Homo sapiens: one gene and its partners. The protein of the gene in region 4 purifies or fractionates together with the protein of the main gene of each other region. This does not show direct contact. Each region holds a gene or a part of one and is shown on either strand. Other genes may lie near its edges. The genes, in order: PKP4, CHEK2, ARVCF and CDH12.

What was found.
Region 1: the proteins of CDH12 (region 4) and PKP4 purify together in Homo sapiens (affinity purification with mass spectrometry; one large-scale study listed by BioGRID and IntAct). This does not show direct contact.
Region 2: the proteins of CDH12 (region 4) and CHEK2 purify together in Homo sapiens (affinity purification with mass spectrometry; one large-scale study listed by BioGRID and IntAct). This does not show direct contact.
Region 3: the proteins of CDH12 (region 4) and ARVCF purify together in Homo sapiens (affinity purification with mass spectrometry; one large-scale study listed by BioGRID and IntAct). This does not show direct contact.

The regions. Positions count from the first base shown.
Region 1 is NC_000002.12:158,676,647-158,684,378, reverse strand, and holds the end of PKP4 (plakophilin-4), read right to left. Parts: intron 7,641-7,732; coding exon 7,512-7,640; intron 5,799-7,511; coding exon 5,725-5,798; intron 5,134-5,724; exon of another isoform or gene 4,990-5,133; intron 3,951-4,989; coding exon 3,702-3,950; 3' UTR 2,950-3,701; downstream 1-2,949. UniProt on the Homo sapiens protein: Plays a role as a regulator of Rho activity during cytokinesis. May play a role in junctional plaques.
Region 2 is NC_000022.11:28,731,821-28,735,320, forward strand, and holds part of CHEK2 (serine/threonine-protein kinase Chk2), read right to left. Parts: intron 2,908-3,500; coding exon of another isoform or gene 2,902-2,907; coding exon 2,583-2,901; intron 1-2,582. UniProt on the Homo sapiens protein: Serine/threonine-protein kinase which is required for checkpoint-mediated cell cycle arrest, activation of DNA repair and apoptosis in response to the presence of DNA double-strand breaks.
Region 3 is NC_000022.11:20,007,841-20,016,583, reverse strand, and holds part of ARVCF (splicing regulator ARVCF), read left to right. Parts: intron 1-6,075; 5' UTR 6,076-6,129; intron 6,130-8,743. UniProt on the Homo sapiens protein: Contributes to the regulation of alternative splicing of pre-mRNAs.
Region 4 is NC_000005.10:21,798,200-21,806,942, reverse strand, and holds part of CDH12 (cadherin-12 isoform 1 preproprotein), read left to right. Parts: intron 1-4,522; coding exon 4,523-4,776; intron 4,777-8,743. UniProt on the Homo sapiens protein: Cadherins are calcium-dependent cell adhesion proteins. They preferentially interact with themselves in a homophilic manner in connecting cells; cadherins may thus contribute to the sorting of heterogeneous cell types.

The DNA of each region.
Region 1 (7,732 bases), on a different chromosome or scaffold from region 4:
ACCATCCAATAGGTTTGGATAAGTGTTCCATCAAATGTACTGCTGAGGCCCCCAAATGGGAGGGTTGCCTAGTGACAGATTTTTAGTGGCTTATATTAATAGGCATAGCTCACAGCATTCTTTTAGGGGGAGTTATCAGCCAAACCTAAATCATCACACACATCAGAATAATCAGAACTCAAGTTTCCCAAAATGAGGTTCATGTAACACCAGTGGTGGTAGACAAGATAAATTTTGGTGGTACGTAGGCATTTTTTTTTTTTTTTGAGATGGGGTCTCCCTCTGTCACCCAGGCTGAAGTGCAGTGGTGCAATCATAGCTTACTGCAGCCTTGACTTCTTGTGCTTAAGTGATCCTCCTGCCTCAGCCTCCTGAGTAGCTGGGATTACAAGTGCATGCCACCATGCCCAGCTAATTAAAAACAATTTGATATTTTTTATGTTTAATAGTTAATTGTTCATTTTTATGGTTACTAAAAAAGTATATGAGAAAACCATCACTTGCCCAAAGTTTATGGCAAGTGATGGTTTTCTCCTTTTAGAGTAGTAATAGAAAGTCCTTTGGCAAATTTGAAGCAATGATGAAAAACACTTTGTAGAAGTTCAGCTGAAACTCAAATTATTAAATATGAAAACCACTGGCAATGTAGTTGAGTGTAATGCTAATGGCCCCTTACTGGCTGTATGATCTTCAGCAAGTTAGTCTTCCAAGTTTGCTTCAGGATATGTTAAATGGGCTGTTAGTACAGATGTCACACATGTGCTGTGAGGGTTAGATGATAATGTATGTGGTACTCTGAGCACATAGTCAGCAGTCAATAAAGTGACCTGTTGGTATTTCAGTGCAAGAATCAGCATCAGGTGGACAACAGAACACTGGCCAGGGATTAATGATTGGAACAGTTACGGGACTGTGTGGTCATCACTTCTGATACTCATGGACTTCAAAGGACATAACCTTAAACAAGTGTGCGCAGGCAAAAAGACATACTCTGGCAAAAAGAAAAACCTCACATCTGACTTTCCAAGTTTAAGATCTCAATGATAACACTCCAAATCTATCCCTCTCTTCTAGGCAAACTCCGCACCCTAAACCCCAGCTGCTAAATTTTCAGGTGGTGCGGCATGAAGGGATGGAGGGAGAATGGGGAGTAGTACCAAGTGGCTCTCACTGGACTGTATGCTGTGATCACCCAGGGAGCTTTTCAGGAATACTGATGTCTGGACACCACCTCTGTGGTTTTGAGTGGTCAGGGTGGGGTCCAGGTGACTCTTAATGTGCAATCACGGTAAGGAAACCCTTGTTTAGCTCACTGACATTGGCTCAGTTCAGCCCTGACCCTCTGGAACAGGGTGGAAGTGGGCTGAATTCTATATGCTACTTAGTGACGTAAGGACAGCAATAAAAAGTCAACTTTGTTTTAGCAGAGCTTGTTTATTCCCACACCTTGAAGGAACAGTAGGCTTTGTTTTTTCATCAATGATGCACTTTTGTATCATTCAGGCTGTGTCTGCAGTTTCTTTTCTCTGGTCTCAAGGGAGGAGTCTTAAACGGCATTAGATCTTCTGCCCAGTCCCCGTGTACAGGCCTCTTTCTGGCTCTGTTAGGTCTGATTGGAGACCCAGGTGAGTTATTTTCAACCCAAATTTGGATCCGTTTTTGAAATGCTGCCTGTTACAGCATTACCCCAAACTAATGCAGTCACTAAAAGAAAGTTATTGTCAGTTGGCTTGGGCTGGCTCCGATTCCCTTGTTTTCCTGATTCCCCAACTGAGCCTTCAGCTTCAACCCAGATCTGAAGATACCAGGTTCAGGGAAGTCAGTGATTGGAAACTGAAGTGGTTACGTCCCAGAAGTCCTGATGCCAGTTCCTCAGGAACATCTGGCGACCTCTGCCATCTAACAAGGGCTGTCTGCTGAGCTCCGCCAGGTATGAGGCAGCCAGGGCTCAGTAGCTGGGCAGTCGACTCCGCAAGCTGGCTCGAGTGTTCTTCAGAAGGCACCCCAGAAGGGCTCCCGGCTTGCAGATCTTAGGAACTTTCATGCTCGCACTGGTATTTCCATTTCACTTTGGATGCTCATCTTGGGCTGCTGTCCATTCGGCAAGAAAACGCAGTTTTCTCTTGGGTGTCTTTCCATATACTCACAAATATAAGTACAAATGTTTTAATCTGCGATTTGTATTACACTTGCAGGGTATATTGAGCTAAGACAACACTTCTGGGTTTGACTTGCCATGGGCGTTAGTTCCTAGTTTTCCTAGTACAGCTACAGGTAAACTAGTTCCTAGTTTTCCATGATGGCACTTAACCAATGTGGCATTTCCATATTTACACCAACAAAGATCCAGGAGCTAGGACTGAAGGGTGGAAACTGCAAGACCTGAGAAGGCCTCAGACTTTGGGCCTGGTGTCCCTCATTGCCTCCACAGATGGAGAAAAGCTCCCAAGTAATGCTGTGTGGTGCTATGGGGACCTCTGCCTACCCTACTGTGGGGCTTCTTTCCCCTACCCCATTCCTAATCCAGGAATTACTCAACAAGATCATAATTTAGAATTTGTTTTATTATATTGGTGCCAACCAAATAAATGCCCAACCACTGTTCTTATGAAGTTACTGAGTTCTTAAAAATGATGCCTAAAAAAGGTATCAATTTAGTTATATCAATTTAGTTATGGCCGGGCTGCCATATAGAAAAACATGATAAAACTGTGAAGGGTACTAGATTTGAAATAGATTCCAAGAAATAAAAATACCTAGATTGTCAGAGAAGGAAAGTTCATAGCTTAATTCTTTGGTGTGGTCCATCTCACAAAGTATATATAAAACTAGGAAAAGTCCAAAATAGTTGGATATATTTAAGCTGTTTCCAACATGCAGTTAGATTTGTGTTTATTAAATCTGCTTTTCCATATACATACAGAAAATTTAAAAAGAATAGAGAACACATTTCCAAGGATGAAATTTCCACATTTATTTTTCTTTTATGTGAATAGAAAATGGCAGTGAAGTGTCCTATGAATGAGGCGAGGAATGGGCATGGCGCTGCGGTACCAGCCTGGACGTTGTGCTTCCAAAGTACACTATGTGTGGTGGAGACAAAGGGTGTCGCGGTTTGCTTTTAATTGCTCACAGTTCCTTGGGCTTCTCATTTGTTTTTGAAGTTGTCAGTTTCTTCAAATCTCTTTTCAAGTGACACATTGCATTACAAATGATGGCACTTAACCAATGTGGCATTTCCATATTTACACCAACAAAAGAAATTTACAAGACATAATAGCATACAATCTTGACATTTAGTAATAGCAATAAAACATGGGCATCCATTTTATTTTTTCTGTACAAACTATCAGAACATAACTTTATTCACATTAAAAAAATCATCTTTAATTTGATTTGACCTACATATCCCCCATTTCATTTCACCCATTTCTCAAACCTCTCATCACGTCACCCACACCTTCACCAGACTACAGAATCTATAAGTAATTAGATCTAACACCTAAATAGAGCTTAGAAAGTCCTCTCCCAAACATTTCCTCACTTCCCTGATAATTCCTCAAAAAAGAAAAAAAAAACACACTTCATTCATTCCTTCCACTTCACTTTCACATTTCAATCATCAAATCAGCAAGATGGACTTTTCACCTCAATCTGAACAAGGTTAGAAAGAAAGAGTTCCTCTGTTGGGCATCTTGATGCTACACCCATGAGTCTGGGGACCCTGGGTACTGTTCTGCTCTATAAGAAGGTCGTTTAGTGGAATAAAAGTCTACATAATTTGTGGTCGATTTCAGTCCATACTGTGTTGAGTAATCAGTAGAAGCTGGAAAGTGAACTCGGTCATCAAAATAAGGATCTTCATAGCTATGAGGAGACTGCAAATACAATCTGTATGCATCAAAGTTCTTTCTGTTGGAGTCATCTTGACTATAATACAGCTGTTGATGCTGTTGACAAAATGAAAAGGCAAATAAATAAAAGCAATTTTTTAAAAATACATGTGTTAGGAAAATTAATGTGGGCTTCCTGCTTCATATTTTTAAAGCAATATTCAATATTTGCAGTTTAAGGTTAAAAGCTGTTTCTGGTGCACACTATGCGTTTACTATTGGACTCTAAGGATTTTAAGCTGCATTCTCAGGCAGGCTGCTGAGTTTCCTGTCCTAAGACCTCTAGAGAAGCAGGTGCCTCAAGAAAGCCTGAGATCTCAGGGCAGGTGGCCCCAGAAACCTCCCCTCTTTACTGGAGGCCCTGCTGTGTGCTCAGCTGTGGAGGCACCTGTTACCTGGGCATGCCGAATGAGAGGATGGTCTTGATATTTGGTTTGACACAGGGGAATTATTAGCACATCACTAATTTAGTCAAGGACTGGGTTTCTGGGCCTTGGATAATTGTATAATTACCGAACCATCTTTTAGAACATTTACTTCAGATATGAAGATGGAGTCCACCCCTACATTTTAAAAGATGTATGTGGCTAGGTGAACAACAGTCACACTTTGGAAACTCTGCTGTAAGTTGTAATATTAAAGGAATAAGCAATCTCAAGGCAGAAGAATAGTAAAATTAGGAGACACACGTGAGCAAATATGGTTCTAGAGGAAAAGGCTTCCCCAAGCCAGGGCTAAGTCCATCTGTAAGTGGGCAAGACCAGGCACACGTGGGCACCCACACAGGGCACACTGCTCTCCATTTCCTTTTGTTCAGTCTTAGCTTTGACCTCACACTAATTTCTTCAAATTGTGATGGTTATTATGTCTATGTTCTTGATTATGCCCAAATCCCCCTACTTAGTAAGATGTAACAAATTTACCACATAGAAACCAATGTCATGTCCTGGAACTCAATGCATTCTAACATTATAAGGATTTCAGAGCTAAATTCTCCTTTCAAGCCAGAGTTATGATTCTGGTCTATTTTTCCTGACTAAAAAACCATAGCATAAATTATGAATAACTTGGAAAGTTCTTTTTCTTCCACCTACAGAGAAAAGATGACGAGAAGGAGAGGTCTTAGAACACATCCTTATCTGAAGGACAGGATACAGTCTTGTTTTAGGAAACTCCAGCTGCTCTGTGTCATTGAAAGGGAAGAGGAGAGACCAGATGGTCCAAGTTCGCCATGGCACTGGTAAGGACCTGAGACTGACTGCAGGCCCTTCATGAAAGCAAAGCCTGGGTGTGTTATAACCGCCAGTCCCACTCTCCCACAGTGAGGTCCATCCCGGCAGGGGCTGAGTCCACCTTGACCACTGAGACAAACAGACCTGGTGATGGACTCAGTGTTTTTAAATTGTGGAGCTTGGACAGGGAGGGGCGAGATGGAGAACGAGGTATACACAAAAGAGAACAATGTGATGAGGGCATGAAGTGTGCTTACCAACCTTCCCTCACTCAGAGGCTGGAAGAGATTTTAGAGCTTAACAGAAAAAGAGTGGGAAGAGGACACTGCTGGGCAAAAGACATGAACTAAAGACTTCTCGGCTGTCCCCATCAGTGGCACGGTGGTCTCAGCAGTACCGATGTGGATACTCAAGAACGTGAGGCTACCGTGGAAATGCTTTGCTTAAACCACACGTTGAGTTTCCAAGGAGTGAAGATCCCCAGGGAAAGCATCTAGGACCCTGCCATGTTGGCCCAGCTCTGGGAAGTCAATCGACGTGGACCCCTTACTGTGTTAACTGCTAATCAGCCTTCTGTAAAAATGATATTGCAAATTCACCTGTAGCCGTCTATTTTGTTCTCTTGCTGGTGAGGAATAGGAACTGATGTAAATTGGTGAAGGTTTGCTGGAGCCTGTAAGAAAATATTTTATGAAATTAAAACTAGTGCTTATTACTCTGGTCCATTAGGCTGGGTGGTCTCCCCTGCACTAGGGCTAGCACTGTCCCCGACAGGGCCTGTCTTCCCCAGTGCCAATGCGGGCTGGGAGAGGTAGCAGCTCAGGGTCCCTGGATCTGGCCTGGCTGCTGCTTACCTCAGGGCTGGTGGGGGCTAATGGCAAAACTATGGCAGAAACAGGCTGTGTGTGTTTCCCCAAAAAGCAATGCCAGTGCAGAGCCCATGCGCAAAGGTTCCTGCTCAAGCTCTGCTCACATGTGGGAGGGTTTCTCCAGCTGGCTTTGGACAGCAGCACGGGATCCTGAGCTGAGGAACACTCCTTTTCCAGGGCTCTGAGCTACGGCAGTGGGTCAGAGAGGAGAAGCGAAACACAATATTCGAACAAGCCCCATGCCTTCCAAACAAACAACTGGGATTCAAAATCTCAGGTCAAGGAAGGAGCAACAATGGAGGCACAGTCTTGTACCTGGCATATTTAAGTATGTTTTAATACAAAAGGAACTTGGTAATAATGAGATAATTGTCTTCAAAAGTCCATAGTAGACTCCTGATGATGTTACCCTTCCATTATTATTAAGGCTAGCAAAGATTTTTATTTTTTTAATGAGGAAAATGAAACGTAGTTGAGGCAAATTAGTTTATTGAAGCAAGCGAAGAAGATACAGAAGGGCATGCATGCTAAAGAGGTGATCTGTAAGATAAAGCAGGCTGCTGCAAATCGGAAGCAACCATGCACTTCAGTTGGTATGTGCATTTCCTTTTGCCCAGAGCTTGGTGTTGAAATGTAGCATCTGCAATTTTCTGAGCTATTAATTGCCATAGTAACAACAGTCGATTAGTAAATAGTCCTGTGAAATCACAATTTCAAAGACAACAGTACAATGGAGACTGCCCCCCCAGCAGGAGTAAAGCTGCCACCAGCTTTTATTTATTTTTAATAGACAGGTTTGAGAAAAGAGTACTTTTTGTGGGGTAGCTCACACTGACTTATTTGGAACATCTAAAGTAGTTATAATCGCCAGACGGTTGAGAATGGGAACAGTATGAAATCTTAGTAACCCTTTGGGCTGGTATCCTTTAAATAAATTGTATGCACAGCTTTCTGAATAGGATATAAAAATATTAACACTATGTAACATTATTTTTGTTATTCTTAAAAAATAATCACGTTGAGAAGAATCACATTATACCTTTTGCTATTTATTCAAACTCTTCTCCATGAAAATGTAAATGAAATTGATCTCCATTCTCTGGTTTGAATTTAAGAGATGAGCCAGTCTAGAAGATGTGGCCCCTGCAAAGTGACACTGGGCTGACGGTTCTGATGCATGTGGAAAACACAGAGACTGCTCGAGCCAGGAGGGGACGGAGCAAAGGGACTGTGCCAGTGAGCAGCCAGAAATGATTTATTTGGATACAGCCCTCTTTTTATTTGTGCCCACCGTACAACTACATACATACATACATACAAACAAGTACATGCTTGTTTTACTTTAAACAAGCAGAAAAGGCAACAATCCCCAAAGTAGGAAAGGGAATGACTGGAACATGGTTTGCTGCTGGGGGACTGTCTCAATACAAGCACAGGCTACTTCCCAGGCCACTGGCCAAGCGCCTGGAAATGCGGCTTTTCAAGAGACTGTATCACACACCCAACTGGCGTCTTACCAGGGTACAGGCCTTTATGTGTGGCATCCCCTTGGCTATTGTAATACTGCATAGGTGGCTGGGTCCTATCGTATTCAGAGCGAGGGTCTCTGATTCCTAACAGTGCTGGTGAGGAAGAGGTGCTGCCGACTGAAGGGAGAGGCAAAGGAGGAGAGAAAGAGGGGTAGAAAGAGAAATCAGCATCAGTATCTGTGGAAAATCCTCTCCAGAAACACAAAGCT
Region 2 (3,500 bases), on a different chromosome or scaffold from region 4:
CCCAGCCTCTTTGTTTTCTTACTTTTAAAGGTGATGTATCCCATTTAGCCCTTTCTCACCATTTCTATTTCTCACTCATCTAAACCTATAGGCCTATCTGAAAAAATATATTGTATTTTATTTATTTGTTTATTTTTTGGAGACGGAATCTCGCTCTGTCACCCAGGCGGGACTGCAGTAGCGCAATCTCAGCTCACTGCAACCTCCACCTCCCAAGTTCCAGCAATTCTCCTGTCTCAGCCTCCTGTGTGGGTGGGATTACAGATGCCTGCCACAACGCCCCGCAAATTTTTTTTTCTTTTTTTTTTGAGATGGAGTTTCGCTCTTGTTGCCCAGGCTGGAGTGCAATGGCGAGATCTCGGTTCACTGCAACCTCTGCCTCCCAGGTTCAACCGATTCTCCTGCCTCAGCCTCCTGAGTAGCTGGGATTACAGGAGCCCGCCACCATGCCCAGCTAATTTTGTATTTTTAGTAGAGACAGGGTTTCTCCATGTTGGTCAGGCTGGTCTCGAACTCCCGATCTCAGGTGATCCGCCCATCTCGGCCTCCCAAAGTGCTGGGATTACAGGCATGAGCCACCACGCCTGGCCTAATTTTTGTATTTTTAACAGAGACAGGGTTTCCCCATGTTGGCCAGGATGGCCTCAAACTCCTGACCTCAGGTGATCCACCTGCCTTGGTCTCTCAACGTGCTGGGATTACAGGCATGAGCCACAATGCCCGGTCTGAAAAATATATTTTAAATCAGTTAAAAATAGCTTCGAGTGTCTACTTATAAATTTAAAGTTGTATATGTGGAATGCAGGTATATTCCTCCATTTTTTATAGTTTTTTCAAGATATCAAAGTTAGACATGAAATAAAACAAGGATGGTGAGTGACAAAACACAAAATGATACATCAGTCCTTCATTTCTTTATATTAACATATTCTATCCTGTTAATGCCAAGTTCAAATTTGTTTATTAAAGAGGTCATTGCAATGTAAGCGAAAGGAAAAAAAACACTATTTTTTTTGGCCGGAGTGCAGTGGTGCAATCCTGGCTCATTGCAACCTCTGCCTCCCAGGTTCAAGCAATTCTCATGTCTCATCCTCCTGAGTAGCTGGGATTGCAGACATGCGCCACCACACCTGGCTAATTTTTGTATTTTCAGGAGAGACAGGGTTTTGCCATGTTGCCCAAGCTGGTTTCGAACTCCTGGCCTCAAGTGATCCTCCCGCTTTGGCCTCCCAAAGTGCTGGGATTACAGGCGTGAGCCACCATGCCTGGCAATGTTAAAATACACACATGTGTATTTTAAACATATGCAGAGCAAAACTTACTATTGGAACCAGGAGGTGTCAGAAAGGGTCAACATGTTTAAATCACAAGGTTGGCTATTTTGAGACAAAAACAAGTAACAAGTAGTCAACAAATGGCCATCTCTATTCTGAACAGCTCTGATTCTCTGAAGCTGTGGCAAACCACAGCAGAGGTTAACTAGTGAAGCTTTTGTGATTAGGGGATAATGTTTGCAAGTTTGAGTGAATCTGCATTTTTCTAGGAAGAGGGTCCAAAGCTACCTTCAGATCTTTGGATGGACAGCACATTGTAAATGTCCAATTATTATTTGTTGAAAGAGTAAATGAACAGAATCCACAGCAGGTAACAGCCAGGGCAACACCCAATACTGCCTCTTTGGTTTTACCTTTTATCACATTCAAACTCCAGAATTATTCTAAGAGTGGCTCAAGCATTCTGCTGCAACTAACTAAGGCAGGAAAATAGGGTCTGAAGGCAGGGAATCTATGGCCAATTCACGCAAACTTCCTGGAATAGATGGGCACGGTTGCTCATGCCTGTAATCCCAACACTTTGGGAGGCCGAAGCAGGAGGATCACTTGAGGCCAGGAGTTCGAGACCAGCCTGGCCAACGTGGTGAAACCCCGTCTCTACTAAAAATACAAAAATTAGCCAGGTGTGGTGGTGTGTGTCTGTAATCCCAGCTACTCAGGAATCTGAGACAGGAGAATCGCTTGAACCCAGGAGTCAGAGGCTGCAGTGAGCCGAGCCGAGATGGCGTCACTGCACTTGTCTGTGCGACAGAGCAAGACTCCGTTGCCAAAAAAAAAAAAAAAAAAATTCCTGAAACTAAACAAAAAAGGAAGAATTTGCACTCTGGCCTATGATCCGTCCATTCTAGGACCTTCATTTGCATAAGGCGTCAATCCACACCAGTCTTGGAATGGCCGAGCTCCAATTCACTTTGGCCTCTAATGGGCTGTGAGCCAGCACTTCATTTACATAGGATGTAAACAGTGGGAGACCTCTAGAGGGTACTTGAACCCCAGAAGACTTTGCTACAAGGGCTCTGCAGCCACTTGCTCAGGCCTGCTCCCATCCTGTGACATGTACTTTAGCTTCTATTGCCTTCCACTTCAATAAATCTATGCTTTCATTGCTTGTTCATGCATGATGTTCAATTATTTGTTCAACGTGCCAAAAACCTGGACAACTCCAATCAGAACCTTCCACCTGGTAATACAACTTTCTGTAAGTGTTTTTCTGAACAAAACGTGATACTATACAACAAAGGGTCTTACCAAGATTGGCAAATCCATCCTGAAGGGCCCATAATCGAGCCCAGGGGGCAGGGGTAGGCTCCTCAGGTTCTTGGTCCTCAGGTTCTTGGTCCTCAGGAATAGAATAGAGTTCCTGAGTGGACACTGTCTCTAAGGAGCTCAGTGTCCCAGAGCTGGAGTGAGAGGACTGGCTGGAGTTTGGCATCGTGCTGGTAGAGGAGCTGGATATGCCCTGGGACTGTGAGGAGGAGCCTTGGGACTGGGTAACGCTGCCATGGGGCTGTGAACAGGCACTGCTGCCATGAGACTGCTGAGCCTCAACATCCGACTCCCGAGACATCACGACCTCAAAAAGAAAGTGTCCAACAACAAAGGTGAGTTTCAAGGCACAAGACTTAAAATTAAAAAGTAAATGATGGGCCTATTACAACAGCAAAAGAAAAGAAAAAAAAAAAAACAGGGCAAACATGCTCTCCAAAAATTAAAAGTCCTAACAGCCCAGACCTATAGTTCTTCTGGGCTGAGCTTTTCACCAGATCATTGTCACCAGATCAGTTTTTTATCTGACAGCCATAAACTACAGGGAAAAACAAATTATCTGAAGGTTACAAATAAGTAAAAAGCAATAAAATTGAGCTGGGGGGCTCATAAAAGCTTACATTTGTCCAATTCTTTTAAATTAAGACTGAAACCAAAAATGTACTGATACAATCAACACTACATTTAAATTTCATATATACAGGGGGCCAGGCGCGGGGGTTCACTCCTGTAGTCCCGCACTTTGGGAGGACAAGACGGGCAGATCATGAGGTCAGGAGTTCAAGACCAGCCTGGCCAACATAGTGAAACTCCGTCTCTACTAAAAATACAAAAAATTAGCCAGGCGTGGTGGCGGGCACCTGTATTCTCAGCTACTCGGGAGGCTGAGGCAGGAGAATC
Region 3 (8,743 bases), on a different chromosome or scaffold from region 4:
CCTGAGCCAGTGGGCGGGGTGTGGGACCCGGGGCTGGGGCCTCGGGTCGGAGCCGGGACTGGGGGCGGGGCTGCAGATATGGGACGCATTCCGGGCAGCGGTCCGGACAGGGTCCTATCCCTGGAGTCGAGATCCGGGCGAGGGTCTGGGCCGGACGTCGGAGCCAATCTCCGCCCCACCCGCGTCTTGTCCGCGCGCTCTGCGGCGTCCGAGACCCCGGGCCGGCGGGGGCGGGTCTCTTTGTGCGTGGCCTTGGGGCCCTACCCTACCCGTCCGGGCGTCTTGCACTGAGCACTCCAGCCGAGCGCGGCCCGACCCCGCAGCCGTGCCCGCCCCGCGCGACGCTTGGCGCCTAGCTGCCAGGGCCCTGCAGCCGCCGAAACTTTCCAACAGCCCGAGGGGCGGCAGGCCGGGAACTTTCCTGGGGCAGCGCGCCGCCGGGAAGCTCAGGGGCACCGACGGCCCGGAGGTGTCCTCGCGCCGCGCTGCTCCTGCCGCCTCGGGGGTGAGAGAGGGCGCGCCACCCGGACCCCCGGCCTGGGTCCCCCTCCCCACGCCGCCCTGCGCCCCCTCGGTGCCGGTGCGGAGACATGTCATCTCCACTCTGAGGGAGACTGCTCGGTTTGCTGGGGAGTCGCCCTGGGCAGGTGGCCTGAGAGCTCCAGCCTATTTTAATTTTTAAATAATTAAATATTGGCTGCTTACAATATTTCACCGTTTCTTAGCTATGTGTAATGTAACATACTTAAAATGGAACTAAAGGACTTCAGCTCCCTTTCCCTACATCCAGGCATATTTAGAAATAAGGAAAAGAAAGGTGCCCCGTGGGTATTTTTTAGAGTAGGCTCTTAATGCTGCTGTCTAATAACCTCAGGTGAGTACCCAGGCTGCTGTGGGGGAAACCTCCCCTATGGTATGGGCCAGGGGGGTGCAGTGGGAGCCTCCACCTCTCCCGACCTTAGCTTCTCTGGGGTAGCTGCCTTTACTTCTTCCTACTTCTTAACTACTGCCTTATCTGCCTTTACTCTGGGATCTGGGCGGTGTTTAGAGGTCTGGTCCAAACAAGGCAGGTGTTACCTATCTTGTACTCACTCTATTGGAGCTGGGATGGTGCTGAATGCAGGGGGGCAGTCAGCGCTCTCTTGCCCGGTGTGCCATGCCAGTGGCCGGTCAGCTCCTAAGCAGGTGATCCAGGCCTTAGATCAGGCGACAGTGTGAGCCGCAGCGTGTCTGGGAAGGCATTTCCCCCAGTCTTGCCCCATCCTATCCGCAATGTCTGCTCCCAGCTGTCCCCTGTCCCCACCCTACCCCCATTCTGGGGTCCACCAGCGCCCAGCAGAGGACTGGGCACAGAACATTCGCTAAGGGACTCAAGTCCCAGCTGAGAGGGTAGTTGAGCACAGCCAAGCCAGCCCCTGCCCAGCTCTTGGCTGAGCTGCCCTGTCAGGCTTTTCAGCATAAACACAAGGACCTTCTGACCAAGGTTCCTCCTGGGAGAACAAGTTCTGACCCTCAATCCTGCTAAATTTGAGTCTCCCCACCCACCACATCTGGGCTGCTTGGCTCCCATGTTTGCTCTGGCACTCCCTCCAGAGGTGGCCCTGTAGTCTCCCCCCAGTCCCGGGGCCCTCTGCATCTCTGTGGCTCTGTGAGGGTAGGGTAGCACCCCTCCTTCTGTTTGTGCTACACAGGGATTCAGGGTGAGTTCCCTGTGCTCCTTCACCCCAGGAGTCTGGCCTGGGGGAGCATGAGGCTGTCCTGAGTAAGGACAGAAGGTGCAGGAGCAGCAGGATCCCCGGTCTCTGGGTGGAGCAGGGAGCTCTGCACACGGATGCCAGGCACCACCCTCTGTCCAGCCCATCTGTCGTGCTCCCCGCCTGGCCCTGGCAGAGGGAGTGACAGGGTAGAGCTGGGATAGGGAGTCAGGGCCCATTCTGTAGACAGGGCCAGGAATGGAGGGTGGGGGTCCAGGGACAGCACTGCAGAGCACCAGCTGGGCCTTGGGGGTCCTGGGGACTTCCCTGATGGTGGCTTAGTCATGGGGAGGTGTCTGTTCTTTTGTCAGCAGCTTCAATTAAGACCAGAATGAGGCCGGGCGCAGTGGCTCATGCCTGTAATCCCAACACTTTGGGAGGCCAAGGCAGGTGGATCACCTGAGGTCAGGAGTTTGACACTAGCCTGGCCAACATGGTGAAACCCTGTCTCTACTAAAAATACAAAAATTAGTCGGGCATGGTGGCATGCGCCTGTAGTCCCAGCTACTCAAGAGGCTGAGGCAGGAGAATCGCTTGAACCGGGGAGGTGAGGGTTGCAGTGAGCCAAGATCACACCACTGCACTCCAGCCTGGGTGATAGAGCGAGACTCTATCTCCAAAAAACAAAAACAAACAAAACAACCAGGATGGGCTGGTCACGGTGGCTCGTACCTGTAATCCCAGCACTTTGGGAGGCCGAGGCAGGCAGACAGATCACCTGAGGTCAGGAGTTTGAGACCAGCCTGGCCAACATGGTGAAACCCTGTTTCTACTAAAAATACAAAACAAATTAGCTGGACCTGGTGGCATATGCCTGTAATCCCAGCTGCTGGGGAGACTGAGGCAGGAGGGTTGCCTGAACCTGGGAGGCAGAGGTTGCAGTGAGCCAAGATTGTGCCATCGCACTCCAGCCTGGGTGACAGGGTGAGACTCCGTCTCAAAAAAAGAAAAAAAAATACCCACAAAAAAACAAACAGAAAAACCCAAGATGAAGTCTTGGGTCACTCTGAGGGGACTTGGGATCAGGGATCCCTTAGTAGGTTTTCCTGGCTCAGGGCCTTCATATCTTGGCCTGTTTCAGGTCGGGAAGATGACCCAGAGCTGGTGGGTGCCTGGGGCCACAGAGTTCCCCCCACTCCATAACCAGTTATGCACAGGCCCTTCCCACTGCCCCTGCTGATTGAGGGGCTGCCGCCTCTGGCAGAGCAACGGGGAGCTGAGCATGGCCACCAGAGGGCAGCTGGGACCGCCACAGCAGGCAAGACCGGCTCCACCCAGCTTCCTGCGGCAGACCAGGACCCTTCCCCAGACACCTGGCTTGGATGACCGGAGCTCGGCCTCCAAGCCGCCTATTGAGGGCGTGGAGTTGGAAAGGAGCCAAGCAAGGCCCCTCGGTACCCCCAACATGCTTGGTGCAGGCAGAAGGAAGCCTGAAGGCCAGCTGGTGGGTGACCACACACAGGCTCAGCAGGGACAGTGAAGGACTAGCCCTGTGCCTGCGTAGCCCCAAAAGTGCAGTGTCCTTCAAGTGTGTGCCCAGGGGCCTCCCAAGCCTTCCCAGGTGTGGTCTGTGCCTCAATGTCCACAGCAGAAGTGGGCGTGTTCTCACTATGTGCCCAGGGTGGCAGCAGGCCTAGGAGAACACTCGGTTTTGCTGTAGTGGACAGCATTGTCATTGAGCAGCATGGACCTTCCCTGTCCACTGGCCACGGGGCACTCCATTCACCTGCCTGCATTGGCTGTTGCCAGGGCATGTTCTCAGCTACCTACAGTCAGTGTCACCTCGCGCTCATAGAGCAGGAAGCGAGGAGACTTGGGGAGGGGGTGGCCTGCTGAGGCCACACTGCAGGGAGTGCAGAGCGAGCTCACCTGGGCCCCTCATTGCCTACCCAGCCCAGGCTGCATCCTCCATCCCAGTTCTGGGCCCAGTGTGTACCCATGGGAGCTGCCCTGTGCCGTCAGCTATCCAAAGGACTGTAGCTTGCCAATCTGGCTGTGTGGCCTGGGCCAGGCTTATGCCCCAGTGTGAGACCTCTCAGCCCTCTGGTTGGACCATGGATACCGTGCCAGAACCACAGGGCTTACTAGGGCATCAGTGGGGTGTAGCCAGGGGCTGACAGAGCCCCATGGCCAGCCATCGGGTCTGGACAGTTTGGTGGGGAGACCCAGTGTGGGGGTCCCATGGCATGGGTAGGCCCAGGCCATCCTCACTGGGAAAAGGGCCCAATAAAGGGCGTGGTCATTCCCCCGCTTTGAGGCGGCTGGTACTGGGTCCTTGGCCAGGCAGGTGACCCCAGAGCTTGCAGAGCACTCAGGGGGGCTCCCCAAGGTGAGCACCTCCCCACCTTCCCATATGATCCTATCACTAGTTCTGCCTTCACATCACTGTCCTGTCTGTCGTCCCTCTGTCCGTCCACTGCCCAGAGCTCCCTTAGGTTGTCCACAGATGCTCTGCTCTGCCCCTGCCTGTACGATGCTGATGTGCCTAGTGCACCCTTAGGAAGGATACCCACAGCTCTGGCTGCTCCTACCACTCAGCCTCCTGTGGTGCTGCTATCCTCTGCTCCCACCCATCTCCTGGGGGAAGCCCTCTCCAATGCCTCACTTGGACCCCTTCCCAGGGTCTGCTATTGGCTCTACCATATGGTTGCAGGTTCTTGGCCTGGCTGGACCCCATGAGGTAGGAGGCCCATGAGGAAGGACCCATGTTCTCCTTTGGTCACACTTCCCCAACTGGGTGGGGGGGGGGGACTTTGGGAGGCCTGGAGGCAGGAAGACCTGAGTTAAATCCTGGCCCAGCCCTTGTCTGGCTGGGACCCAGTTTCTCCATGTGTAAAATGGGGTATATAGCCAACCTGAGACACCTGGTAGAGTCAGTGAGATGACGGCTCACAGCCAGTGTGTCTCGGTTCTGTGGCACATGGTGACTCCGGGGGAGAGGCTGGTGCTTATCAGGGATAAAAAAAAAAAGTCACATGGTTCTCTGTGGTACAAAACCTATGTGAACACTTAAGCTAAAACCAGAGGTTTCCTAGAAATGTCACACTCAGAGCAAAAGCTGGTTCCTAAGCCTCAGACCTTGGAGTAGGAGCAGCATCTCCTCTTCCTCGGGGCGCAGTGCTGGTGGATGGGCTCCCAACCGGGCCTGCCCATCTCAGGTGCACACACACACTCATATTCACATGCACGCACATGCATATGCACATGTGCCTGGCTTGGTCCCCAGTTCTTCCCTGCCTCAGGCCCTGCATCCCACCCCCCATGATCCCACCCTGAGGCGTAGCCAGTCGCCCACCCTCACTTGGACCCCTTCCCATGATGAAGAGGCTGTCGTGAGACGGGGAAACACACCGTTGGGGCACCAGAATGGACCATGACCACAAAGGACTATTGGGCGGGGCCTCAGAACAATCTAGAAAACACCGTAGAGGCGGGGGAGAGAGCTCTCATTACCGATGTCCCCCAGAGACAGCCTCCCATCCGAGGCCCAGCCCTTCCCTGTCTGTCTGCAGTGTCCTGTTTTTCATTTTTATGACATGAACACTCTGGCAATATCCCCGGGCCTAGATATAAGGAGAGGGAATGTGTCCCCGGGGCCATTAGCTGAGACAGGAAGCCGCAGGGTCCTCCCCTGAGGAAGGCTGAAAGCTGTGTGAGTACAGGCACCCCCTTGTCTCCTGCTCCAGCCCATAAGCCTCAGCTCCCCAGGCTTGAGTGCCAGGTCCCCCATCCCAGACAAATGGTTATTCACACCTGGCCACAGCTCCAGGGCCAGGAACCTGCCTGCTTCCCCGCCCTCCCTGTACTGGAGACTGTTGGGGGCAGCTGCCTGCCTGGGAGGGCCCAGGATCTATGTTGGCCTCAGGGAACCTCAGGAGAGGCACGTGGCCTCGCCCACAAGGCGGGAGCGGACTCTAGGGAGGTGGAGCAGATGTCTTATGGGGCTGTGAGCACCTGCGTGGGGCAACAGGACCCTGAGCCTGGCTACCCTGGGGTGGGAATACTGCTGTGCTGTGTGTGATGGGGAAGACGTCATTATCAGTCCACATCTCTGAAGGATCACGTTTCTGAAGGATGGTCAACAGCATTAGACATGCTGACAAGGAACCGTGGCAGCCCAGTGTCACCTACAGTCCTGGACATGTGGGGGCAAGAAGGTACACATGAGTGTGTGGTTATGAGTCAGGAGCACCACGGGATGACCTTCAGATCAGGCATGACAAGGTCCTGCTTAGAGGACGGTCTGGGCTTGTGTACCTTTATCCGGCAGGGACCTACCCAGCTGGATTGACCTCACTCATGCCCTCTGGTTTCCCTGCAGGAGCCAGAGCCTGCAGGGTGGGTGTCGGGACATGCTGATCTTCCCTCAAGACAGGTGAGTGGCCTGGGTTTAGCTTGGGGACATCCTCTCCCACATAGGACAGCAGAGTGTTCTGGTGGGCCTGGCGGGTGGGGGTGACAGGGATGGACTGGCCCTGGACACTGTGTGCTCCTGGTCCTTCTCACCCTGGGTAGGCACAGCCCCTGGGCTGGACAGGGTGGATGTGAGGGCCTCCTGCCACCAGCTTGGGTTTGTTACTGGCCTGAATATGGGCAGCAGCCACTGGTTTGATGTCTGGCTTTAGGGACAAGCCTGTTTGGGGCTGGCTGACGAGGTTGCTGGTCAGTGTTGGTTTGGACATTCACTGGGTCTGCTCTTCACCTGCCTGAGCTAGGATGCCAGCCGCAGTGGCATCCAGTATTGGCACAGCCTGCTGGGCCAGGCCATTCGCTTGCCCCCCAGAGACTGGAGCCACAGGGACAGAGGATAGTCCTGGAGGCCAGGCACACAAAACTTTGTTTGAAAAGGTCTGATAGTAAGTAATTCAATTTTGCAGGCCTTATGGTCTCTGTCACAGCTGCAGTTCTCTGCCATTGTAGGATGAAAATGGCTGCAGACAGCCCATAACTGAATAGTCTGAATGTACTCTGATCACAGCCGTAGGCCATGTGTACTGGCCCGTGGCCTCAGGTGTTATCTGTGTTTGGGGTTCCTCTGCTTATCATGGCTGCTAGCTCCAGTGGGACTGAGGCATAGCGCCTGGGAAGCATGGCAGGGTTGGAGGCTGAGTGGTCCATGTCCCCCAGGACCCTCTGAAGGATGGTAAGGCATACCCTGCTCACATCCACGCTGCCAGAGTTTTGCCACGATGGGTGCTGTTCAGCAGAGTGGGTGATGGCTTAAGAGAATGGCTCCTGGCCATTCTTGTTCCTCCAGTCCCCACCCTGGCCATCTGCCTGTCCCCCCAAAAAGCAGTCTCTGTGGGAGGCATGGCTGACAGCCCTGTGGTTTCTCAGTGACAATTAGTGCCCATTGTGGAGGCATGGCCCAGCCAGTGCTGTGCCTAAGTGGTAGGGAGAAGGCCATGGCCTCCGGATGCCTGAGTGACCTAGGCTGAGGGATCTAGGGCAGATGGGAGGGACAGGATGACTGACTCCTTGCCTGTTCCCAAGTCCTTGGGCATGGAAAGCTGCCGGCCGGGCCAGCCTAGTGGGAGCTGGGTCTGCTGCCGCCTGGCTGTGTGGGAGGACCAGCGTCTGGCCGAGAATGTCACTGCTCAGGCCATTTGGCCATGCAGGGTCTTCTGGGTTGGGACAAAGAAGCTCAGGCAGGGTACTTGGCTTGCTTGTGGCACAGGTGACAGGGCATCTCAGGGTGGCAGGAGGGGCTGTCCCACTGCCCTTAACTCCTCGTAGGTCACCACACTTCAGGGAGGCCAGGTCAGCCAGACACCAAACGACAGCCCTGGTAACAGGGTCCGCAGGAGGGTGGTTGGCTGGGCAGGTCCGAGGCTGCCCAGGCACACTTGCTCACTCTCCCTCCTGTTGCTTGCTCCTTTCTTGTCCCTTCTTTTCCCTCCCCCCTCCAGTTCTTGGTCTTCTCTATGTTTCTCTGTGGCCCTCTCTGTGCCTCTTTCTCTGCCTTTCCCCATCTCCTATCCTGCCCATCTGGAATGTGGTGATTGCTTATTCCTGTCTGCTGTGGTGATTGGTTTTTCATGTCTGCCCTGGGCACTGGTGCGATGGGTGATGGCATTTGTGCCATCTCTGCTCTGGCTTGGGCAACCTGGGCTCTGGCTTGCGGCTGCCTGCTCTGCTGGGCCCTGGGGTGTGGTCCTGTCCACAGCGGGAGGCAGCTGGGGAGGGAGCCTCAGGGCTCAGCTGGGACAGGGGCTGATGTAAACACCCATGTGTCACCACACTCAGCACCCACTCACCCAGCCTCATGCTGGGTCCTGGGCATCACAGGCACATCAGGCCCAGCCCTGCCCCTGAGGAGCTCCCAGCCTGGTTGAGGAGATCCACAACACACAGAGGAACCAGTGGCCAACTGTGGGGTTACAAGATGGTGATGAGTAGCATGGCTCCCTTAGGAGGGGGAGCTGGGAGGGTGTGATGGGGTGGTGCGTGCTGAGACCAGGCCTGAGTGAGAAGGGCTGGCGGGGACACAGATGCCCTGCCGTTTCCCATAGCTGGCCAGCAGTGGTGTCCTCTCAGAGACCAGCACCAGCCTGGCCTCCTCCATCAGCCGCCGTGTGCCTGCAGGGGGTTGCGGCTTCGTCTCCTGCGGCCGCCTGGCCCCTATGACAGGCCTTCTCTTGGGTTTTGATGTGTTTCTCAGCCATTGTATGAGTCTTTGTATATTAAAGATATTAATTCTTCACTCCTCTTTCTGCCTACTGCACATTTTTCTCACCCTTTTAGTTTTTGTTTATGATCATTTTGATGTCAAAAATGTTTCATATTTTGTGGTGAAGTGTGTTGGATTTTTCCCCATTTTTAGATATTCCGTCTCTCTGTGTAGTCAACTCTCCCTAGCATGCAGCCAGATAAAGATGCACCTGTCTTTTCTTCTAGAAGGTATTTTTACTTTAGTTTTGTACACAGCATTTAATCTGTCTGTCTTAGTCCATTTTGGGCTGCTGTATCAGAATACCTGAGACTGGCTA
Region 4 (8,743 bases):
TTTGCAAACATGGTTTTGGCCCAGGACCAAGGAGGGCATCAGTTATAGGGAGGGACTACTATCATCCTTGGTTCAAAGTTAAAGTATAAACTAAATTCCATAGTTAGCTTGGGCTATGCTGGGGAATGAGCCAAGACTGCCAGCCTGTGAGGCTAGAAGCAAGATGGAGTCCGCCATGCTAGACTTCCCTCACTGTCATAATCTTTGCAAAGGTGTTTTCAGTGTGGGAGATATAGGCTCTTGGGCCACAAAAGGTTTGCTGAAAAATTACTGACATGAGGGAGATTGATTAATAGGAGAAAAGGCAAACAAATTATTTAACGTGTATATACAGGTGCCTTCAGAATGAAGACCCAATTTCCCAATAAGTTACAGAATCTAATCACCATCTCAAGGTTACAGAAAGAATGGTGGCCCAGAGCATGGACAAAACCAGGTTGTCTTGGTAAATCACGTTTAGTGGCAAGAAAGGTTATGAGAGGGAGAAAGGAAGTGGCTTGGCTACCAAAGCCACTTGTTATGTAAATGAAACCTCCCTCAGAGAAAATAGATGATAGTTATTTATTTTCAGACTTTTAAAATTGTCAGGCTCTCATTGGCTCCTAGGTCTGGGAAAGGCATAGAAAAGACCTGCCCACGTTAATGGGAATTCCTTACAGATGCAATTTTTCTCCCACAAAAGATAGCTTTGCAAGGCCACTTATATTTTCTGGCCCTGTGGCAGACATTTCAAAATACATCAGAGAAATATCTTGGGGGGTAAAATATTTTTTATTTCCTTCAGTGGCAAAAAACAAAGAAGCAAAATTCCCCCCTTCCCCAATTCCTCCCTTGAGTCTCTGTAGAACAATTGAGTATATCATATTTCATTTCTCTATAGTTGTGGTTCTTACTGCACAACTCAATTAGATGAATTGTTTCCTGAACATTCTGGTGCCACTAGTCTTCCCTTATAGAAACAACCTAAAGAGAAAGAAGCTGCTCAACTAAATTCTCTTTAGTCAATCATTTCTTCCCCTTTGAGAGGTTCATAACCATTAAATGGGCTCCAAGCCATGCCACAAAGTTCTCTATTTATTGTGCAAGAGATAAATTAGTTCAACCTCACAATAATGTATGTCTATCATAGAATATGATTTATTTTCTAGCACTGAAACTAATCCTATTTATTCTATATTTATTTCAAATGCTGGGATTTTTATTGATTGTGAAACTAAAGTTCATTCCCCCCAAAAATGGAGGGTAGTCAGTCAGATGTGTAGGTAAATTCAATTAAAGACAGATCACTGCTGGTTCTCTTTGCCCTTTCTGAGCTATATACCATTTTGTCAAGTGGGATTGCCTAAAAGTCAGGGTCACGAAGAAGTAAGTCCACCTAGGAGACTATGGTGGCATTTCTCTTACAATTTTCTTTAGTTCTTTGATCACTACAGGCTATAAGTTTTCAGTTGCAAAAAATCTGTATGTACAGGATTCTTTTATCTTACTCTGTCTCCCTAACAACCAGATATTTGCCTGCTGTTATAGGTCAGGGGTCCTTAAAAGGCATGGAATACATCTCATCTCTTTTAAAGGTTTCAAAATTCTCCTTTCATGTCTGGCTTGAAAAGGAGTTACCTGTAGAGAGTCAAGATTATCTAGATAACAGTAGTGTGTAATCAAGTAGGGAAAAAAAATTAAGATCTTATCTAGAAAGAATTTGCCAAATCATATAGATAATTAGAAGTACTTCAACATATGAGAAAGTAGAGAGGGAAATGGGGAATGATTGGTACAAACGTTTACATTCTAAGATAGAAGTTAATTTTTGCCTAAGAAAGGGAGTAAGTATGAGCCAGGTCAGCTCAATTTGCTTTCTAGGCAAAAGGAACCCTAAGGTGATAAAAATCAAAGTAGTCTTATACTACAAGTTAAGGATACCTAACATAGACCACTTATATTGTTTAACATTTATAGAGCATTTAGAGTTTGGAAAAACAGAAAACATATTTTTATATGTTCCTTAATTTGAATTAGCTAGTGCACGCTTCTATCTTACACATCATTCTCTCTCCGATATCTTCTAACATATTGAATATCTCTTAAACACATGTAATTATAGAGAACTTGGTACTTCTTCAAACTCACTCATTAAGCAAGATGGCAATATTCTGTAATTTGTTGAATGAATTGAGAGGCAAGTCTTGTCTTTTCATCTTTCCATCCTTACAGGATGCATGTCAAGCCTTGCCACCACGTAAAACATCTATGTGTGTGTGTGTGTGTGTGTGTGTGTGTGTGTGTGTGTGTGTGTGTGTGTTTTAATTCACTATAGAATGATTTTATTTATTAGAGGTTTTCTCTTTTTTCTAATCTAAATTTACTCTCGTTAATAACTCAAATTACTATTAATTCACCACTCAGAGGCATAAAGAATAATCCTAAGTAATGTCAACATAATGGCCCTTCAAGTATTTGAAAATGTGTGTCTTTCCTTGCCTTGGCAGTAATTGTAGTGGTTTCTCATTTTTGGCTTTGGTAATATTTTATCATTCTAGTCTTGCAATAAGTTGTCTTTTCTTGAGTCTGATTTCTTCAACAAAACACAGTATTCAAGCTTTAGGCTGATCAAAGGAACATCACTGGGTGATCCTCTCTCTTTTTTTCAGATACTACACTTCTATTCATGTCATCAAAGGCCACATTATCAACCATCGCATATTATGCATACTATTCTTTGCTTATATAGGTATTAAGAGAAATCAAAATTTCTAACAGGAGAAATATGAAAATGAAAGGAAATCAATATTATAAGTTAACAGGTATGAGGTTAGCAAATTAAAATATAGAAAAGTAAAAAGAAAACATTGATTACAAAGCAGATAAACACATAAATAAAAATATGATAAAAGGAATACCTATAGGGAATTAATAAATATAGTTCCTGCTGCATAAAAAAGTATGGTGAAAGAGACTGATGTCATATTCAAGTGAAATTGCTGTTTTGTTATAATAAATTCCATGAAATTGTGAGTTTTCGAAGATTTAAAAGTGTTTTTTTGTTTTTGTTTTTGTTCCTCAGAGGAAATGCATAAAATGGCAATCATATCTTAGAAGGAGAAAAATATCCATCCTTCCTTTATTTTCCCCAGGTGTACTACAGTAAAGGAACAGGTACTGACACAGCAATTAGCAACTTACTGGGGTCAGACTTGAAGGAATTCCTTTAGAAAACATAAATTTTTAAAGGTCCCAGAAAATCACCATGTTAATGTTAAATTCGTGTTGTCTCAGATTTTCTTAGATGATCAGAGGCCAGAGCCATTGACCTTAAAATTATCACTTAAACAAAGCACCACAGCAGCACCATATTTCAGGAATAGTGTATTTTCAGTTATTGTGGACATAAAATTAATATTTAGAGTGAGGGTGCAAGTAAGCAGCGATAAGCTAAAACTGAGCATCCGTGACTCCATAGAAAATGACTTTCTATATTATGTTTCACAGCCTTCTCTAATTTAGTCATATATATTAATATATAAAGCCACAATTCTTGGTAATGTGTATTGATGATGTGTTACCGCGCCCATAATTTATATATACAGTTCTGAGAACACACACACACAAAAATTCTTTTTAAATTAGTACTATGTATGCTTTTAAATACTGATACAGACATTTACTAGTAAAAAAAATAAAAAAAGATCTAGACATCCAAAAGTATTTAATATAAGATGCCATAAAATAAGACAACAAAATATGGAGTTTTCATGGGACCACTTTTTCAATACCAAATTTACAGCTAGAATCTAGAGTATCTTCAATGATCCTATTTCATTTTTATTCATTTTTTTGTTTATCATTGCTTTGTTCCACTAGATGTCAGTATTGGATAAGAGCAGAGAAATGCTTCCCTGAACATCTGTTCTGTTGCTGTTTTAACTTTGCTCATATAAAATGATTAAGCCCTACCTAGCATGTATGTCTGCACGTAAATGATGAGTTTTTCAAACATAGGCAACTGATGATCTTTACAAGTTACCCAGAAACTTCTACATGGACGTGATTCTTTTCTTAAAATGTTTACCTTGCTTCTGTAATCCCAGTCCTTTGGGAGGCCGAGGTGGGTGGATCACCTGAGGTCAGGAATCCGAGACCAGCCTGGCCAACATGTTGAAACCCCGTCTCTACTTAAAATACAAAAATTAGCCAGGCATGGTGGCGGGCGCCTGTAGTCCCAGATCCTCCGGAAGCTGAGGCAGGAGAACCGCTTGAACCCCAGAGGTGGAGGTTGCAGTGAGCCGAGATCACACCACTGAGCTCCAGCCTGGGAGAGAGGGAGAGACTCTGTCTCAAAAAAAAAAAAAAAAGAAAAAAAAATGGTTTGCCTTGTGCTGCCCTTACCCACTAGTTATTAAGAAAAATGAAAATTTTAAACCAGTATAATTGATAATAACTTGCAAATTGCTCTGAAGTAATGTTCACCATTTCTGCCACATTCTATATAAATTTACTCCTTATTCTTAATTTGTCCTCACTACAGCCTTTAGATTTTGAAACAAAGAAGGCATACACTTTCAAAGTTGAGGCTTCCAACCTTCACCTTGACCACCGGTTTCACTCGGCGGGCCCTTTCAAAGACACAGCTACGGTGAAGATCAGCGTGCTGGACGTAGATGAGCCACCGGTTTTCAGCAAGCCGCTCTACACCATGGAGGTTTATGAAGACACTCCGGTAGGGACCATCATTGGCGCTGTCACTGCTCAAGACCTGGATGTAGGCAGCAGTGCTGTTAGGTGAGAAAAAGAAACATTTTTTTTCTATGTTTCAGGAAAACAAAACAAAACAAGAACAAAAACCAGAGAACCAATTCTCTGTCCAAAACTGCATGATGATTTAATTATAGAATATGATGCTTGAAAACATAATGACTTTACATAAGAATAGAGGAAATGTTATAGGATTGGGGGGAAAACATATTATCAACTATTGCAGCAGTGTTTACTAGTGGTGTTATAACCAATAGAGGTCTGATTCTCATGTCACTCAAGGTAACAAATCTCAACTCTTCATGTATAAACGGGATTTAATAACATAACCTTTTAGAGAATGATTCTCATAATTAGTAATATTAAGATACTTTGAAAGTGCCTAGAGTATAATAGACATTAATACATTTTATAATTACTCTAAAATTTCTGACCCCTTACCCAAAGTTAGTGTTTGAAAAAGTTATTGCAATTTGCATGTCATTTTTTCCAGTGTAACAAACTTGTCTACTGTTGTTGAGGTGAAATGAGTAGAGACACAGTTAGAGTCAGTCCTAGAGTAAAATGAATTTATGGAATTGCTCAAAGCAAATGCTTTGCAAGAAGCTGCTTCCTGCTCATCTCTCTCCCACTGTCACTCTCTCTCAACACATAAAGTCCACTAGTACTATCAAGACATAATACAATTTCCCTTTTCCTCATTTATGCATTGACCCAGCAGTATGTTTTGAGACTTTATTTCCCATTCGTTCTATTGTATGCTTGAATTTTCTGCCGCGTGCCTACAGCTGTTGAGAAACCAATTAAAAGACAAGTATGAGATTTGTTCCTGAATCTTCTGTCCCGAAAGAAGCTTACTATGCAAGAACCAAAATAAGAAAATATTAAGTAGGTTTTTAAAGCAAAAACACTTTATTCTATTGACATACAACAGACAGATATCTTGTAAGATTTTACACTATGTGACAAGTAAAGATTAAAACAATGGATCAAGTGTTCAGTAGTATCCTTAACACAGTAATTGCATATAGTGACATCTCAGGAAATGGCTTGACAGCATACGTAACTTGCTCTTTGGATTTATCTGAATCCATCACCTATAATTACATGAATACTACCTCAGTCAGTTCTAGCTGCTACCATCCATTAACACATACTGGATGTATTAGTTCGTTTTCACACTACTATAAAGAACCACCCTGAGACTGGGTAATCTATAAAGTAAAGAGGTTTAATCGATTCACAGTTCCACATGCCTGGGGAGGCCTCAGGAAACTTACAATCATGGCGGAAGGAGAAGCAGGCGCATCTTACATGGCAGCAGGCAAGACACAACGTGTGAAGGAGGAACAGTCAAACAACTTATGAAACAATCAGATTTTGTAAGAACTCACTCACTATCATGAGCAAAGCATGGGGGAACCACCCCCACTCCCATGAGCCAATCACCTCCCACAAGGACCCTCCTTCAACATGTAGGGATTACAATTCTAAATGAGATTTTGATTGGAACCCAGAGCCAAACCATATCACTGGATGACTTAAGTAACAAACACAGTTCTGGAGGCTAGACAGTCCAAGATCAAGCGACCAGCAGATCCAGCGTCTGGTGAAGACCGGCTTTCTTTTCAGCAGGTGGTCATCTTCTCCTTGTTTCCAGACACTGGAGAAAGAGAAAGAGAGCTCTCTCTAGAGTCCCTTTTGTAATGGTAAAAATAACTTCATGAGGGCTCCATCCGGATCAACTAATTACCTCCCAAATGCCCCATCTTTTAATACTATCACATTGAGGTTTAGGATTGCAAGATGTGAATTTTGGGGGGATACATATCATCTCATAAGATTCCAATTCTGCCCACCCCAAATTTATGTCTTTCTTACATGCAAAATGCAGACATCCTAAGGGCCCCCAAAGTCTCAACTTCTTCTAATATTAATTAAAATCCAAAGTGTCATCTAAATATCATCTAAGCCAAACAAATGTGAGACAAAAGGTACAATTCATCCCGAGGCCAAATTCCTCTCCAGCTGTGAATCTCCAGCTGTGAAACCAAATAAATTATGTGTTTCCAAAATACAATGGTGAAGATATTCCTATTCCAAGATGTAGAAAGAGGAAAGAAGAGAGGGGTGAGAGGTCCAATGTAAGTCCAAAACCTAACAGGGGAAACTCCATTAAACCTTAGTCTCAAACATAATCCTTCTCTAGCTCTATTCTTCACCTCTCAGGCCCACTAGAATGGATGTCCCACTTTTGGACTCACTAGGGTGGCAATATAACCTCCACCACTCGGAGGGACACCACCCATGCTGTGGTTCTCTGCAGTGTCCTCACTCATGTGCAGTGGTCACACTCTCAGGGCTCCACTGAGCGACCCTACCCCAGTGTGTCTTCTAGGCATTGATCCCAATGTTTAAAATCATTATGGAAGCAGCCATTCCACAAGCCTGGTGACATCAAATCACTGTTGGGGTGATTTGGAATTCTTCCCTCGATTTGGAGAATTATGAATGCTCATAGCTGAAGAGCTATGTGATGCTATTTAACAGAGCTGAAGAAGTTTGATGATCTTCTTTCATTTTACCACATTTCTGTTTTCTTTAGTACCAGCTGGCAGTGTTTCTGCTATTATAATCTCATCTGTTTTCCTGGCTTTTTTTGAAATAGCAGATGAAGTTCTGGTTCACACCTATACAAATCTTCTTATTAAGTAATCAATCTATCAACCCTTAATGTTCTCTTCTAAACACACTTTCTCATTATTTTGGAACACGGACGGGGCTGAGATATTTCCAAGTCCTTAAGCTTTGGTTTCTTTTTACTTAAAAAATTCATCTTTATTTCATTTCTTTTATTTCACATTTTACTGCAAGCAGTTGTGAGGAACCAAGCTACTCCTTTAACACTTTGCTTAAAAATCTCCTCAGCTAAATATCTAATAATTTCATCACTCAAAAGTCCTTCTTTCCACAAAATACTAGACCATGAACACCATCCACCTAACTTCTTTGCCACTTACTGACCTTTCCTCTAGTTTCTAATAACATGTCTTTATTTCTCTCTGTTAACATATCAGAATGGCTTTTACTGTCCATATATCTACCAACATTCTGTTTATGACTGTTGAGTTGTTATTTGGGAGGACAGAATCTTTCTCTACAGTTCTCTTTTCTTTCTGAACCTTTAACAGAATATCCTTGAACATTCATAATTTTAGCACTTCAAAACTCTTCCAGCCTGTACCCCTTACTCAGTTTCAGAGCCACTTCTACATTTTTAGGTATTTTTTATAGCTGCACCCCCACCGTTTGGTACCAATGTCTGTCTTAGTCACTTAAGGCTGCTATAACAAATTACCGTTGATGGAGTGGCTTCAGCAAAAAACATATATGTCTCTTGTTTCTGAAAGCTGGAAAGGTTATGTTCAATGTGCCAAGAGATCCATTGTCTAATAAAGGCCTGGTTTCTATTCAGCAGAAAGTCATGTCTTTGTATCCACACAGCAGAAAGAGAAAGAGAGCTGTCTGGGTCTTGGTTAGAAGGGCACTAATCCTATTTATGAGGACTCCACCCTCATGACCTCCTTACCCCCACAAAGCCTATCCATATATCATACATTGGACATTAGGATTTCAACATATGAATTTTGGGGAAACATAAACATCCAGTCCATAACAAATGCTTTTATTCTTGAAGAGAATCAGTAATCAGGAGAGAACTCTAAAAAAGCTCATCTGTCTTTTAAAAAGAAATAAGTATAACAATTACTGAGCACCCGTACATTTCAGGCTGAATGCTAACCAATTTACTCACTGAATTCAAACTATTATTTTACATTTCCATATTACAACATGATTCACTTCCAGTTAAGTTCCAGAAAACCATATATGGTTTATAGGGCTATATGCAGACACACACACACACACACACACACACACACACATCCACATATACATTCAAATATTTGTTAGGTATTCTCCAAAATCTGCTGCC